Regions from separate parts of the Homo sapiens genome. Here region 1 is linked to region 2. The links come from fine-mapping of genetic effects on plasma protein levels. Region 2 holds a variant in brackets. A gene starts in the other region. All regions are shown on their forward strands.

The links. A credible set is the group of variants that fine-mapping cannot tell apart. PIP is the posterior inclusion probability: the model's chance that the variant is causal. Protein levels are from antibody-based Olink assays in UK Biobank. Linkage for the fine-mapping came from a reference panel and not from the study's own genotypes, which makes the PIPs less certain.
Region 1: SCGB3A1 starts here. The variant in region 2 is the best candidate, but not a certain one, in a credible set for the plasma level of the SCGB3A1 protein (UK Biobank, PIP 0.73).

The regions. Positions count from the first base shown.
Region 1 is chr5:180,589,393-180,597,672 of GRCh38, forward strand. It overlaps SCGB3A1 (secretoglobin family 3A member 1), which reads right to left and starts at 2,107. Exons shown (of 3, transcript NM_052863.3): 1 at 2,019-2,107; 2 at 1,208-1,446; 3 at 713-862. The coding sequence starts at 2,070. The coding sequence ends at 839. LOC124901154 (a long non-coding RNA gene) reads left to right here and starts at 3,778. Exons shown (of 2, transcript XR_007059088.1): 1 at 3,778-3,817; 2 at 4,501-4,876. RefSeq lists enhancers at 299-968, 969-1,638, 1,639-2,308 and a silencer at 7,321-7,492.
Region 2 is chr11:62,422,348-62,430,633 of GRCh38, forward strand. It overlaps SCGB1A1 (secretoglobin family 1A member 1), which reads left to right. Exons shown (of 3, transcript NM_003357.5): 2 at 1-61; 3 at 712-848. The coding sequence ends at 744. It overlaps LOC102723765 (a long non-coding RNA gene), which reads right to left and starts at 4,576. Exons shown (of 4, transcript XR_007062699.1): 1 at 4,340-4,576. RefSeq lists enhancers at 2,265-2,354, 2,395-2,464, 3,814-4,361. The variant C/G (reference allele first, on the strand shown) is at 629.

The sequences.
Region 1 (8,280 bases), not on the chromosome of region 2:
TGCCTTGGCTTCTCAAAGTGCTAGGGTTACAGGTGTGCGCCACCGTGCCCAATCAAAAAATTTTTAAAATCTCGTGTGGATATTCATGATGGGGGGAAGACCTGCTCAAGCCACCTGAGGCAGAGTTATTCATCCCAGCAAGGAAGTCAACTGGGAGGCTTCCCCTGAAAGGGACACCGATGTCTGGGTTCCCTGGGCACCTTCCCACCAACACTAGATCAGTTGACAAAAGGTGGTCTCTCCGCTAGAGTAGAAGGAATCAAAGTCACTAGGTTATTTGGACAAAACCAGCAGAAACTGCAGGGAAAACAAGCCCAACAGCGGATTTCCTGAAGCCCTCATTCCTCCCCCATTCCGAGGAAGAAATCTACAAGTATAGAGGGAAAAAATAAAAACTTTCAAATTTTAGCAACAAATGGCTTTGGTGCGTTTGCATTCTCGCCAGTCTTCAAGGAGTAGATAATTTTTATGCTTCATAAACAGTTACAGAGCACAACAGGAAGAAAGACCTGCCAGTTTTGTTTCCAAATCCGGTTTACCTCTGATACTGGCCCCATCTCTGTCACCTTGCACTGCTGGCTCTATGCCACCTGCAGACTCTCGCGGCCTCTCTCTCCCTCTCTCACGCAGCACCCCTCACAAAATCTGGGACTTGGCACTCTCGGTCCCCCACAGGGATCAGCATTTGGATGAGAAAATACCAGGCTCGAGCTGCTCTTAACCACGTTTATTGAGAGGGGCCGGGGGAAGGGGATGGACGGTCCTCCCCGCGGCGGGGTTTTCAGCCCTCGCGGGTGGGCAGCGTCTTGTCCTCAGGTGTAGATGCTCCAGTCTCGGCTCAGCCAAACACTGTCAGGGCCCCCTGGAAAGCAGAAGCCGAGCTTGAGTGCCCCCAGCCCTGCCACCAAGAACTCAGGCGGGGGCGCGGCAGCGGCCGGCTCTGTGGGGAGCGGGAGCGGGGCGGTTCCGCTGGCGTCTCCGGGGGACGCGCACCCGCGCGGGGCCATCTCCGCCTTCCCCGCCCCTGCAGCTCGGATGCGCCCCACCCAGTTCCCACCCGGAGACCCGGGCTTCTCCCAGGGACAGGGCTTGGAGGGGCAGGACGGGAAACAGCCCTGACGTAGGGCCGGGACACCTCTGGTGCAGTTTTGAGGCTGGCCGGGAAGGGATGCCCGCGCAGGAAGGGCACCCGGGGTGCCCACTTTACCAGCAGGGCCTTCAGGGCCTTCACGGCCCCCACGGCCTGGGGACCCAGCTCAGCCACACACTTCTGGGAGCCCTCTATGAGGTGGTTCACGGGGATGCCCAGGCTGCTCAGCAGGAGCTTCAGCGGGTTGAGGGTGCCGAGGGGGTTGGCCAGGGTCCCGGCCCCGGCCTCCGCCGCCGACTCCAGCGCAGCGACAGGCTGGGCCACAGGCTTGGCCGAGCCCACTAAGAAAGCAGCAGCTGCAAGCGAACAGGGAGGGGTCACCGCCTGCGCGCCGGGGTCCCCAGAAGGCAGGTCCAGGACGCGCCCCCGCGGGAGGCGCCCAGGAACCGTCGCGCCCTGCCCGGCTCCCCGACCGCCCCTCCCTCCTGCGCCGAGGCCTGCCAGGTGCGAGCCCCCGGGACACAGGCGGGTCTGGGGAGGCGGCCCCGCCAGGAGACGCTGCAGGGTCACCGGAGTGGCCTGAGGGTGGCGGAAGGACCGGTGAACTCTGTGCAGGGTCCGGGACAGGCCCCCAAGGGAGGGGACACTCGCGCTGCGCCTTGCAGGATGAGGAGCCGGTCTCCAGACGGGGGGCAGACGGGTGTCCCCAGGCCAGGGGCGGCCTCCATCCCGGCACGAGGCTGGAGACAGCCCTGAGAGGGGGAGGCCGCGGGCTGCAGGCGCGGGGCCCCGGGGTGGCGGAGCCCTCTGGGCGCCGGGCGAGGCTGGAAGGACCTGGGATCCACGATCGGCGCAGGCAGCGGCGGGGGCGCAGCGGGCGCCGAGGCCTCAGGCCCCACCGTGCGCGCCAGGAGCCCGGGGCGCTCACCGGAGCTGCAGGACAGGGCCACGCAGAGCCCCAGGAGGGCGGCGAGCTTCATGGCGCGGGGGCTCGGGGCGCGCGGGGAACCTGCGGCTGCCCGGGCAAGGCCACGAGGCTTCTTATACCCGGTCCTCGCCCCTCCAGCGCCGGCCTCGCCCGCGCTCCTGAGAAAGCCCTGCCCGCTCCGCTCACGGCCGTGCCCTGGCCAACTTCCTGCTGCGGCCGGCGGGCCCTGGGAAGCCCGTGCCCCCTTCCCTGCCCGGGCCTCGAGGACTTCCTCTTGGCAGGCGCTGGGGCCCTCTGAGAGCAGGCAGGCCCGGCCTTTGTCTCCGCGAGGCCCACCCCGGCCCGCACCTTCGCTTTGCGGTCTGACCCCACGCGCCCCCCTGCAGGGCTGGGCCCGGGTGAGGGGAGCTTCCCTCGCGCCAGGGCAGGGGCGGGGGCGGCGCAGTTCCTGGCTCCCTGGTCCCTGCCTCTGATCCCAGACCGTGGCAACGTCGGGCACTGGGGGTCCTCGTGGGCGCCTTCTGCGCCTGGGGAGGTGGAGGCGCCAGGGACGATCAGGCCTCACTCCCGGCCGCCTCCCCGGCCGGGCCACAGGCAGCCACAGTGCAAACAGAAGTGGGGCGTTTTTCTGTCTTCGAAACTAGCCTCGACGCCAGTGGATGGGCCTGGTTTGTTCCTGAGTTTCTCTAAATGTCCTCACTCGTCTGTCACCTGCAGAAGTATGACAGATGGAGAGCAAAGCACATTTTGAAAACTTTTGCAAATGATACATAAACTAATTTGCTTTTAGTCCTTCTTCTTTCCTCTATTTTTTGACCCCAGGCATTGAGCACTGAGTGACTCACGTTTTGCTGCGTGGCTGCTCTCAGCTAGGTTGGTGCAAAGTCTCTCTTTTCTTTTGTAAAGTGTAGCTGGCACGCGTGGGAAACAGGCTCCCGGGTGGGAGGACCTGACTCTTCAGGCAGTGTCCTGGAATTCCTTCCCTATGGCTGACAGCACGTCTTAGCCCTCAGCCACCCCGAGCTACTGCGGCCTCCTCCGCACCTGCAGACACTTGTGCCTTTGCCAACTGTTGTGGCCAGGCACACGCATTCACACTGTTTCTGTTCACTTACACTTTTCCTTGACTATTTTGTTTGGGGGATTTTTGCATTATAAATCTGGAGTTTGGTTGTGTTTTGTTGGTCATCATGGAAGTAATTTTAATGGGAAATACGTTTTCTTTTTTAAAAACAGTTTGAAGTTAATTACTTTTTTGGTGGTGGTAAAGACACTGTCTTGCCGTGTTGCCCAGGCTGGTCTCGAACTCCTGAGCTCAAGCAATCCTCCCACCTCAGACTCCCAAGTAGCTGGGACTAGAGGTGTGAGCCACCACACTCAGCGGATTTTGATTTTGTTTTTTGTTTGTTTGTTTTTTGAGACAGTCTCACTCTGTCGCCCAGGCTGGAGTGTAGTGAGGTGATCTTGGTTCACTGCAGCCTCCACCTCCCAGGCTCAAGCAATTCTCCCACCTCAGCCTCCCAAGCAGGTGGGGCTATAGGTGTGCACCACTATGTCCAGCTAATTTTGTTTATTTTTTGTAGAGACAAAGTCTCACTGTGTTGCCCAGACTGGTCTTGAACTCTTAGCCTCAAGTGATACTCTTGCCTCAGCCTCCCAAAGTGCTGGGATTACAGGTGTGAGCCACCACGCCTGGCTTGATTTATTTTTATTTTTTCTAGAGATGGGGTCTCGCTACATTGACCAAGCTGGTCTCAAAATCCTGGCCTGAAGCAATCCTCCCGCCTCAGACTCCCAAGGTGCTGTGATGACACGTGTGAGCCACCCCGCACAGCCCAGCTTCACCATCTTAAGGGCACACTCCATTAGCATTAAGTATATTCTAATGTTGTGCAAACATCACCACAATCCATTTCCAGAACTCTTTTCCTCTTATAAAACTGAAACTCTGAGCCTATTAAACAACTCCCCACTCCCCTCCCCAAGCCCTTGGCACCACCATTCCACTTTCTGTCTCTGAATCTGGCCACTCCCGGCACCTCATATGAGTGGAATCGGGCAGTGTTTGTCTTTTGTGTCTGGCGTATTTCACTTAGCATGATATCCTCCAGGTTCATTCATGACCTTCAGAGTTTCCTTCCTTCTTAGGGTAGGATACTGCTCCATTGCATGGCTGTGCCACGTTTTCTTCACCCATTCACTTCACCCGTGGGTGGACATGTGGGCGCTTGCATGTTTTCACTGCTGTGAGTAATGCGGCCGTGAACACGGCTGTGCAAATGCCTCTTTGGGACCCTGCTGTTGGCTGTTTTGGGTGGCTGCTCAGAGGTAGAATGGCTGGAGCCTGTGGAACTTGCCTGTGTCATTTGTGAGGATCTGCCATCTCTCCCATAGCAGCGGCACCACGCTGCCTTCCCAGCAACAATGCACAAGGATCCCAGTGTGTCCACAACCTCATGATGCTTGTTCTTCTCCTGAGCAGGATCTGGCAGCCTTGGCCCAAGCAATCCCAGTGGGCGCATCTTGGGAGCTGACTTTGGGGCCACCTTTCCCCATGCTGCCTGGGGACCAGAGAACACTGACCGCGGGAAAGACCGATGCTGCCGAGGCCAGGAGGAGGGGGAGGCCGTCATCTGTGGGTCCCCAGCAGCGCTTGGGGTCCTGGCCACTCCAGCGGCCCCTTGCACCTGCCTCCAGGGATCCTTTGTCTTCAAAATAACCTCCCTCCACCTTCCGGCTCATAGTGCCTTGGGTGGATCTGTTCCCATTTCCCACAAGCCTGCAGGGTGGTGACAGGCCCTCATTCCCATGTGCCCCAAGATTTCGGATTCCAAAAATACATCCCCTGGCTCCCCGGAGAAGTGTGTCACGGTGTCTCCGTTTCACCACTGACAGGGCCAAAGGATGTGCTCTCCTCTCCCGAGCTGCCATGGTCAAGGCAAGCCAGGACTCACCTCAGGCTGGCCCAGCCCCTCACCCCACACTGGCTCTGGGGGCCACGGCTGGCGAAGCCTCTGCGGTAGTTGGGGATCAGGCAGGCCGAGGGTCTGGCCTGTGCCGAGACCTGCACAGCTGGGTCAGCGGCTGCCTCTGTATTCATTTCCTGAGGCTGCTGTGACAAGTCACCACATACCTGGTGGCTGAAAACAACACATTTACTCCGCTCGCAGTTCTGGAGCCCAGAAGTGCAGTGTCACGGGGGTGAAGGCGAGGCGTCGGGGGCCGCTCCTCCTCCAGAGGCTGGGCCTTCCCAGGAGCTTATCCACTCCTGGCCTCTCCCTGCTTATGGGGGCTGCCAGGGCCCCTTGGCTGGTGACTGCATCACTCCAGTCTCTGCCTCCTGGTCACATGGCCTCCTCCTCTTCTGTGTGTGTGGGTGTGTGTGTGAGGGTGCGTGGGGTGTGTGTGTGAGGGTTTGTCGGTGTGTGGGTGTGTGTGGGTGTGTGGGTGTGTGTGGGGGTGTGTGTGGGTGTGTGAGGGTTCGTGTGTGGGTGTGTGGGAGTGAGAGGGTATGGGTGTGTGTGAGGGTGTGTGAGGGTATGTGTGGGTGTGTGAGTGTGTGTGGGGTGTGTGTGAGGGTGTGTATGTGTGGGTGTGTATGTGGGTGTGTGTGAGGGTTCATGTGTGGGTGTGTGTGGGTGTGGGGATGTGTGGGGGTGTGTGTGTGGAGGGGTGAGAGTGAATATGCATGCAAGTGTGTAAGATGGACAGTGAATGAGAATGTGCATGTGAAGGAGAGTGAGTGGGTGTGAGCTTGTGGGTGTGTTTGAGTGTGAATGTGTGTACAAGTGTGTGTGTGGATAAGCGTGAGTCAGTCTGTGTGGGAGGGAGAGTGTGGGAGGGAGTGTGTGGGAGGGAGTGTGTGGATATGCATGTGTTTGAATTGTGTGCAAGTGTGTGTGAATGTGTGTGTGAGTGTGGGTGTGTGTGAGTGTGAAAATTCTGCCGCCATCTTATGAGTGTGTGTGTTGTTGCATTTAGGGCTCACCTAGATAACCCAGGACAGTCCCCTCATCTCACAATGACGCCCCCAGTCGGGCTGCCGAGACCGTGCCTGCTGAGCCTAACATTCCAAGGTTCCAGGAGCTGGGGTGTGGACGGACCTGGGGCCTGCCATGCCCTCCAAGTGCTGCCCTGCCCCTTGAAGGCCAGGCCAGGTGAGGCTTCCAGGGTGGGTGTCAGAGTCCGCCCGGCATGGGACAGGGGCGGGTGGGCAGCGCCCTCTCGTCAGCCTGGGCCTTCCCTGCCACTCCTGCTTGCGGCCCTTGCTGGCTCAGGTCTGCCGAGACACTGAGAAAGTGCTTGGCGCTGTCTGCAGACGACACGGTCAGCTTGTTCTGGGCAGTGTTTGCAGGGCATCTTTTGGGCCAAAATAAACACGCACACCTTGCCCACTCCCACGGAATGCAGGAAGAGCTGGAAGGTAAACAAGCACTTTGCGGCTCTGGGGAAGGGGCCAGATATTGAATTTGGGGCCTATTGAAAGACCTCAGGGCCTCGGAGCAGGGTACTCAGCCCCTGGGTGCTCCTGCTGGGGAGCCTAGAGGCTCACGGTGCCTCCGCCCGGCCCACGCTTTGGCGGTGCTTCCGCAGACACCTGTGGAGGGCTGTTCAGGTGGCAGATGCCCACTCTGATGCCCCCACCATGTCCCCATTCTCTCTCTGATGTCCTCTCTCTCTGAGGCCCCTGCTCTCTGTGATGCCCCCTCTCTTTGATATCCCTCTTTCTCTGGTGCCCTCTCTTCCTAATGCCTTGAGTACATAAATTATTAAGCAAACTGGGTTGAACTCCGGATACCCATGCCTCTCTGATGTGGTCACCTGGGCAGGTGAGTGCAGCTCCCCGCCAGAGCAGGCATCTTGGTGACTGTTCATTGCCGGAGTTTTCTGGGGCCCCTCTCTGCCCACCTCTGCTCTCCTGGGATAGCAGCTGGCTGTCAGGTGGTGTCCTGGTGGCTGGGCCCTGGTTAGGTTAGCCCTCCATGCTAGAATGATCTGGGGCTTTGGGAGGGGTCTGTGGTGCTGTTCCAATAGAAGCTGCTCTTCTTTTTATGTCTAGAGCCAAAGGCCGCAGGCGCTGGACCCCGGCCCCGAGGCCCCCTTCCTCACTCCTTCTGAGCAAACTTTCCTACTCGAAGGTGGGGACCGGTGGGCAGCCCTGGTGGTGTCAGCCGGCACCCTGAGTTTCCCGATGGTCCTGGGACCCTTTTTCAAGGGACTTGTGGGGGCTCCTGGCCAGGGCCACCACAGCGGCCAGCAGCAGCGACCCTCCACACCGCCCTGAGTGGGCCCCACAAGGACAGGCACCTCGGCCAGTCCCAGCAGGCACTCTGGGCTTTCTCCTGCGCCAGTAGGAAGTGGTTTGGCTCGGCCCCGTGGGCCCTGGGGCGCTCAGCACCCCCTCCTCAGCCCCCGTCCTCCCTCCTCATGGCTCGGCCCCGTGGGCCCTGGGGCGCTCAGCACCCCCTCCTCAGCCCGCGTCCTCTTTCCTCATAGCTCAGCCCCGTGGGCCCTCGGGCACTGGGCAGTGTCGTGAGCATATCCGAGCGCCCTCTGTGGCACCGTCCCTGGGTCAATATTGATCTGGCTCTCAGCCACTTCCTTTTGCCCCTTCCCTGTCGGCACTCCCACCCACAGGGCCCTGCTGTGCGGAGGGGAGCAGGTGCTGTCGATGTGGTTCCTGCCTTGTGGGTTCAGGGCATTGGTGAAAGTGACAGAAAAGCTGACCCACGTGGCTTTAAGCAAAGACTGAAATTCCAGGAGTGGCTCCGCCTTCAGGGAAAGGTTGATCCAGGCTCAAAGGATGTCACCAGGACCTCATACCTCATTCTTCCCTGCCATCTCTCAGCTCCTTTTTTTTTTTTTGAGATGGAGTCTTGCTCTGTTGCCCAAGGTGGAGTGCAGTGGTGCAATCTCGGCTCACTGCAACCTCTGACCCCAAGTTCAAGCGATTCTCCTGCCTCAGCCTTCTGAGTAGCTGGGATTACAGGCGCCCGACACCATGCCCGCCTAATTTTTGTATTTTCAGTACAGCCAGGGTTTCATCGTGTTAGCCAGGATGGTCTCGATCTCCTGACCTCGTGATCTGCCTGCCTCGGCCTCCCAAAGTGCTGGGATTACAGGCGTGAGCCACCGCGCCCGGCCTCTCAGCTCCCATTTTTTAGAGTTGTCCTCCTTGGAGTGACAGGCTGGCAGCCAGCAGTGCCAAACCTCCGATACCAATTTGGGCCCAGGCACACAAGCGCTGGTGCTATCCCCAGGG
Region 2 (8,286 bases):
GCTGAAGAAGCTGGTGGACACCCTCCCCCAAAAGCCCAGAGAAAGCATCATTAAGCTCATGGTAACCAGCACCTTTCACGTCACACTGGTTAGAAGTGGCTTCCCCAAGTGGGGCTGCAGGATTGCCCCAGTTTTCAGACCTGTTTCTAATCCAGAGAGGAGAGTCACAGTGCCACTGTCCCCAGGCAGGCAGCACAGTGATCTTTCTAGACATCTCCTCTTCCTTTTTTTTTTTTTTTTTTTTTGAGACAGAGTCTCGCTCTGTCGCCCAGACTAGGGTGCAATAGCACGATCTTGGCTTACTGCAACCTCCACCTCCCAGGTTCAAGCGATTCTCCGGCCTCAGCCTCTTGAGTAGCTGGGATTACAGGCACCCACCATCATGCCGAGCTAATTTCTGTATTTTTGTAGAGATGGGGTTTCACCGTGTTTGCCAGGCTGGTCTCGAACTCCTGACCTCAGGTGATCCACCCGCCTCAGCCTCCCAAAGTGCTGGCATTACAGGCGTGAGCCACCACGCCCAGCCTCCCCTTACTATTTTGTAAGAGGCTTTTGAGAAACAATCCAAGCCCTTACTACCTTAGTTCCTCCTAGAGTTGACTGCACCTCTCGGTTAATGTTGAAGTTT[C/G]TGTGGCTCGTCATCTCTGCCTAACTATGCAATTCATTCACTGTTGTATTGGGTTTTTCTGTTTCTTTGTCTATTTGTTTTAGGAAAAAATAGCCCAAAGCTCACTGTGTAATTAGCATTTAGAAGCTGAAGATCCCCAACTGCTCCAGCCTCTGCCGCTGCCATGCTTTGAGTCCACGCCCACCAGCCTTGCTCTCTTCAATAAACCACAAGCATCTCACTTTTGTGCCCCCTGCGTGGTTTTGGTCTCCTTGTTATGGTGGGGGGTCTGCCCCTGTCAGGGTAAGGTGAGCCAGGACAAAAGGAAAGCAGCCGAGCTCTGCCCTTGGATCCCAGCAGAAATCTCTGTGCTCTTCCAAAGCTCTTTTCCTCTAGGTTTCTGCCTCCAACAGAGCTCAAGCCCCCTCCCCTTATATCAGACCATCTACTCAACATCACAGACTCTACTCAACATCACAGACTCCACTTGTCCAACAGAACCAGTGATCCTGCCCCAGTCTGTTCCTATCTCAGTGAGTTCTGGCTCCATCCTCCCCGCTGGGCTGCACCAGCCTGAGGAGCATCCGCGATCCTTCCTTCTCTAGCCAACCCAGGCTACCTCTAAAGGGCCTCTGGAATCCTTCACTCCAAGTCCACAGGCAACACCCCCATCCCTGCCTGTACAGCCCCCGGGGCCTCCTCTCTGGCTCCCAGCCAGACTCCAGGGCCCCCACAATCCCTTCTCCAACAACCCAAAGGAATTCTTCTCAAGTGCAAAGTCCCTCCCCATCCTTCAAAGCTTTCTAGGGCTCTTATTGTAAAATCCTAAATCCTGACGATAGATAGTGGCCCCTCACCAGTCTTTCCTGTGCTCCTCCTTCCCACGGCTCCTTCATTCTGCTCAGTCCCCACACACACCCCCACCTTCCCTGCCCTCAGTTTTTAAAAAGAGCCAAGCCCCTTTCAACCTTAAGACCTTTGTACCAGCCACACAGCCCTGGCTGCTCAAAAAGTGTGGCTGATGGCCAGGCACGGTGGCTCACGCCGGTAATCCCAGCACTTTGGGAGGCCAAGGCGGGAGGATCACCTGAGGTCAGGAGTTCGAGACCAGCCTGGCCAACATGGTGAAACCCCATCTCTACTAAATATACAAAAAATTAGCCAGGTATGGTGGTGCGTGCCTGTAATCCCAGCTACTCGGGTGGCTGAGGCAGGAGAATCACTTAACCTGGGAGGCAGAGGTTGCAGTGAGCTGAGATCGTGACACTGCACTCCAGCCTGGACAACAAGAGTGAAACTCCATCTCAAAAAAAAAAAAAATTGTGGCTGATTGGTTTTTAAAATTGCTCTAGAGCAAAATGTGCAAAGAATAGAACTCATCCTAAAGATGCATCCATGTGGATATAAAGACCCCCAAATCCCCGGCCAGTTTCATGGCAGCCAGCCCCCTGCTGGGCCACATTATCCACAGCACCTAAATAGAAGCGGAGGATTGGCTGGGCTTGGTGGCTCATGCCTGTAATTCCAGCACTTCGGGAGGCTGAGGTAGGAAGATGGCTTGGGCCCAGGAGTTCAAGACCAGCCTGGCAACATAGTGAGACTCCATCTCTACAAAAATAAAAATAAATTAGCCGAGTTTGGTAACGCATGCCTGTAGAGCTGGCTACTCTGGAGGCTGAGGCAGGAGGATCTCTTGAGTCCAGGAGTTCCAGGCTGCAGTGAGCTATGATCATGCCACTGCACTCCAGCCTGGGTGACAAAGGTGAGACCCTGTCTCAAAAGGAAAGAAAGAAAAAGGTGGAGGACTGCAGAGGGGCTGCAGGAATCGGAAGGGCGTCGGCAGAGGGCACGGAAGGAGGCGGCGGGTTAGAGACGGAGCTCTCCAGTTCGAGCCCCTCCATGGAGCAACGTGGTCCGGTGGGCCTTGTGCCCCGCGGCCACTAGGGGGCAGCATCGTCCACAGGGTCCTGGAGCGGACGCGCTGTCGGGGCTGAGGCACCCAGAGCTCCGGCTCTGAGGATCTGGTGTCATCCGTATAATTTTTTAAATCTCGGCCGTGCGCGGTGGCTGACTCCTGTAATCCCAGCACTTTGGGAGGCCGAGGCGGGTGGATCACCTGAGGTCGGGAGTTCGAGACCAGCCTGTCCAACATGGTGAAACCCCATCTCTACTAAAAATAAAAAATTAGCTGGGTGTGGTGGCGCGCACCTGTAGTCCCAGCTATTTGGGAAGCTGAGGCAGGAGAATCGCTTGAACCCAGGAGGCGGAGGTTGCAGTGAGCCGAGATCGAGATCGCGCCACTGCACTCCAGCCTGGGAGGTTGCAGTGAGCTGAGATTGTGCCATCGCACTCGAAAAAAAAATAATAATAAAAAATATATATATATAAAATAAAAATCTCATATTTTGAAAGTTTTAAAATCCGAATTCTGAGGGAAAACAGGGGCAGCCACACAAACCATGTTGCCACCCGGTTGAACCCTGCCAGGGAGTGATGTGTCAGCCTTTTTGGGATTAGCAATAATTCCATTCCCAGACGATTTCAAGGGCAAGGTTCATGGAATCTAGAACTTGAGATGGCCCCAAAGGTGGAGAAGACCATGCGGAGCTGGCGGGGCTGGCCTTTGACCTCCACCTGCCCGGTTTCTAAAGTCCCCAGGCAGAAACCACAACCCAATAACCCTTATTGATTGCTTAGGTGCTGGCAGGCGCTTTCGCAATCTTTTTTTTTTTTTTTTTTTTTGAGATGGAGTCTTGCTCTGTCTCCAGGCTGGAGTGCAGTGGCATGATCTCAGCTCACTGCAACCTCCAACTCCCTGATTCGAGCAATTCTCCTGCCTCAGCCTCCCGAGTAGATGGGATTACAGGCTCCTGCCATCATGCCTGGCTAATTTTTGTGTTTTAAGTAGAGACAGGGTTTCTCCATGTTGGCCAGGCTGGTCTCGAACTCCTGACCTCAGGTGATCCACCCGCCTTGGCCCCTCAAGGGCTGGGATTACAGGCGTGAACCACCGCGCCCGCCCTCAGCCAGTAGTGGTTTTTTGTTTGTTTGTTTGTTTGTTTGTTTTTGAGACGGAGTCTTGCTCTCTCGCCCAGGCTGGAGTGCAGTGGTGTGATCTTGGCTCACTGCAAGCTCTGCCTCCCGGGTTTGCACCATCCTCCTGCGTCAGCCTCCCGAGTAGCTGGGACTACAGGCGCCCGCCACCACGCCAGGCTAATTTTTCGTATTTTTAGTAGAGATGGGGTTTCACGGTGTTAGCCAGGATGGTCTTGATTTCCTGACCTCGTGATCCACCAGCCTCGGCCTCCCAAAGTGCTGGGATTACAGGCGTGAACCACCGCGCCGGGCCTTGCAATCTCTCAATTACTCCTCACACAACCCAGATTCCAGAGCCCGTGCCCCAACCCCTGCCCTGCAGGTGGTGGTGGGATCCCTAATTCCAGAATCCCCAGAGCCAAAAATCCAAATGATGGTGATGAGCAAAGTCCACCTACCCCCAAACACACACTCACACACACAAACTAGAAAGCCACCGTGCCCTTCATTTTCAGCCACGAAGGAGGGGATCTGATTGTAAAAATTCCGGAGCAGGTTGGGGGACTGGCAACTCCAAAAGAGATTCCTTGCCTCCGGTGGGGCCTTGATGGGGGCTGCCCAGCTCCCTCTCCTCCCCCACTCCCTCCCTGCTGAGGCATCACATTCTCCTTCACCAGGTCATCCTAAAGCACATACCTTTGCGCTGGTGGGCCATCCGCCTGGATGAGTATTGTTTCATCGGATAAGCTTCCAGAGCCATAAAAGGTTCAGAATTTTAATTGCCTATTCACAGCCAAGGGAAACATTTACCCAGGGCCAATGCAAGGCAGGTATCTGAGGAAAAGAAGCACAATTACGGTGCAGAGAGGCTTGAGGCTGGGGACAACACTGCAGGAATCACTGTGGGTGATTCACAAGAATGTGGGCTATGCCAATCCACAGAAATGGGCGTTAAATTTTAAAACAGCAGAATGCAAAGATAAACTGATTGCAACCACAGGAAGAGCATGTAACTGTGTGATGCATGTTGACAGAAAGCAGGAAATTCGAGAAATGAAGGCACTGTTCACTGGGTGCTTTTCTGTCTGTGTGTAGTTACTCACACCAGTTACTCGTGTATTATAGCATGGGTCTGTAGACTATGGCCAGCAGGCTAAGCTCAGGCTATGGCCTATTTTTTTTTTTTTTTTTTTTTGAGACGGTTTCTCACTCTGTGGCCCAGGATGGAGTACAGTGGCGCAATCTCGGCTCACTGCAACCTCCACCTCCCAGGTTCAAGTGATTCTCCTGCCTCAGCCTCCCAAGTAGCTGGGATTACAGGCGCATGCCACCATGGCTGGCTAATTTTGTATTTTTAGTAGAGACAGGTTTCACCATGTTGGTCAGGCTGGTCTTGAACTCCCGACCTCAGGTGATCCGCCCACCTCAGCCTCCCAAAGTGTTGGGATTACAGGCATGAGCCACCGTGCCTGGTCATTTGTTTGTATTCTTAGTAGAGACGGGGTTTCACCATGTTGGTCAGGCTAGTCTCAAACTCCTGACCTCAGGTGATCCACCCGCTTCGGCTTCCCAAAGTGCTGGGATTACAGGCTTGAGCCACCACGCCCCGCTAAGACCACATTTCTTGATCACATTGTCAAGAAAACTGAATCTGAGTGAAAAACTTTTTGAAAGTATCTGTTAACCCTGAAATCTGCAACCAAAGGAAACTTACTCTGGAGGAAAGCTAAAGCAGAATGGTAGTTGTCAAACACCGCCATCACGTTGCAAAATCCAGGGGCTTGTGTCAATGTGCCTGGACTAATTGATCAGTAGGAAAGCTGCCGTTGTGTATGAGAGACAGTTGAGGTTAGCCTGACAGAAATATCTGTAAATGACTCATGAGGCAGGAAGAAGAAGCAAAACCAGCCTTCATTAGCCTTATCACGATGATATGGATAAAATTATGTCTAGTTTGCAGCTGATGCAAGCCCTGCTGTTTTCGAAAGCCAAGGGATTTGTGGGCAGTAATCACCATAGGGGTGTCTGCCACTCAAAATGGCTTCAGATAGACGATCAAGAGAAGTTTTATTGATGATGATGAGGCCACACAAACAATGCATTCTGAAACATGTAATTAGGGGATGTTCCTCCCAAGCACTTTCAGAATACACCAACAGGCACATGGGGATAATGTGAGGATGAATCATCAGTAGTTAGCCACCCAACATATTTCCATGAGCAAACTAAAATTATAAAACTATAGTACATGCAAAAAAATCTGAAAATAGACTGGGCACGGTGGCTCACGCCTATAATCTCAGCACTTTGGGAGGCCGAAGCAGGCGGATCACCTGAGGTCGGGAGTTCGAGACCAGCCTGACCAACATGGAGAAACCCTGTCTCTACTAAAAATACAAAATTAGCCAGGCATGGCGGTGGGTGCCTGAAATCCCAGCTACTCGGGAGGCTGAGGCAGGAGAATCGCTTGAACCTGGGAGGCAGAAGTTGCAGTGAGCCAAGATCGCACCATTGCACTCCAGCCTGGGCAACAAGAGCAAAACTCTGTCCCCAAAAAAAAAAAAATCTGAAAATACATTTAGCTAAGCTAGCATGGGAATTGATTGCCAGCTTGGGAATTGATAAACCGGGGGTTTGGAACTCAGATTTGTTACCCCATCAAGTGAATGGATTCCCAGCTAATCACAAGAGTCTAGTTAACTCTGAAAATACCTGCAGTTATATGCCCATAGCTGTAACTGCCCGGTGGGTTCACCTTGCTCGCTGCCTGGACGGAGCCAATTTATCAAGACAGGGGAATTGCAGTGGAGAAGGAGTAATTCACACAGAGCTGGTGTGTGGGAGACTGGGTTTTATTATTACTCCAAACAGTCTCCCTGAGCATTCGGGGATCGGGGTTTTTAAAGATAATTTGGCGGGTAAGGGCTTGGGAAGCAGGGAGTGCTGATTGGTCAGGCTGGAGATGGAATCCTAGGGGGTGGAAGTGTGGTTTTCTTGCTGTCTTCTGTTCCTGGGGAGGATGGCAGAAATGGTTGAGCCAGATTACCAGTCTGGGTTGTGTCAGCTGATCCATCGAATGCAGGGTCTGCAAACTATCTCAAGCACTGATCTTAGGTTTTACAATAGTGATGTTATCTGCAGGAGCAATCTGGGGAGGCTCAGACTCTTGGAGCCAGAGGCTGCATGACCGCTAAACTAAATTTCTAATCTTGTAGCTAATTTGTTAGTCTTGCAAAGGCAGACTGGTCCACAGGCAAGAATGGGGTTTTTTTTAGGGAAATGGCTATTATCAATTTTGTTTCAGAGTCAAAACATGAACTGAATTCCTTCCCAAAGTTAGTTCAGGCCTATGCCCAGGAATGAACAAGGACAGCTTAAAGGTTAGAAGGAAGATGGAGTCGGTTAGGTCTGATCTCTTTCACTGTCATAATTTCCTCAGTTGTAATTTTTGCAAAGGCGGTTTCACAGCCACCCTGTGTGTGTAACCACGAGGCAGATACCTACAGAGCTTCCTTTAGAGTTCCCTCTTAGGGCTGGGTGCAGTGGCTCAAGCCACTGTGGGAGGCTGAGGCAGGCGGATCACCTGAGGTCAGGAGTTCGAGACCAGCCTGGCCAACATGGCAAAACCCCATCTCTACTAGTAATACAAAAATTACCCGGGCATGATGGCGCATGCCTGTAGTCCCCGCTACAGCTGAGGCAAGAGAATCACTTGAACCCAGGAGGCAGAAGTTGCAGTGGCAGAGGTTGCAGAGGCGGAAGTTGTAGTGAGCCGAGGTTGCAGTAAGCCGAGATCACACCACTGCACTCCAGCCTGGGTGACAGAATGAGACTCCATCTCAAAAATAAAAATGAAAAAGAATTCCCTGTTAGGCCCCTGTCACAAAAGTAGGTACTAATCAGCCCTGGGACAGGATAGAGACTTGATCAGAGGCTCCCTGGGAGCTGTGGAAGGAGGAGCAGGCCTTGGGGCATCAGGAGAGGAGAAAGGGTTGCTGGGCTGGGGGATCTCCTGACCTCCTGACCTTAGGCGTCCAGTCGGTCTCTGAGTCCATCTCAACTTACATGGAATTGATCCCTTTATTTTTTTTTATTTATTTATTTTTGAGATAGGGTCTCACTCTGTCACCCAGGCTGGAGTGCAAGGTTGCAATCACTGCTCACTGCAACCTCCGCCTCCCAGGCTCAAGCAATCCTCCTCCCTCAGCCTCCTGAGTAGCTGGGATGACAGGCGCACACCACCATGCCCAGCTAATTTTTGTATTTTTTTTCATAGATACGGGTTTTCGCCATGTTGGCCAGGCTGGTCTCAAACTCCTGGACTCAAATGATCTGCCAGCCTCTGCCTCCCAAAGTGTTGGGATTACAGGCGTGAGCCACCGTGCCCAGCCCTTATCCCCTTCTCTTGACCCTATTGCCAATTCCAAGCCTTCACCATCTGTGACCTGGATCATTGCAAACAGCCTCTACATTAGTTTCTATGGCTGCTGTAACAACTTACCACAGACTTAATAACTTAAAAACACACAAATTTATGATCTTCTCGTTCTGGAGGCCAGATGTCTGAAATGCATTTCACTGGGCTAAAAACCAAGGTGTTGGCAGGCTGCATTCTTTCTGGAGTCTCCAGGGGAGAATCTGTC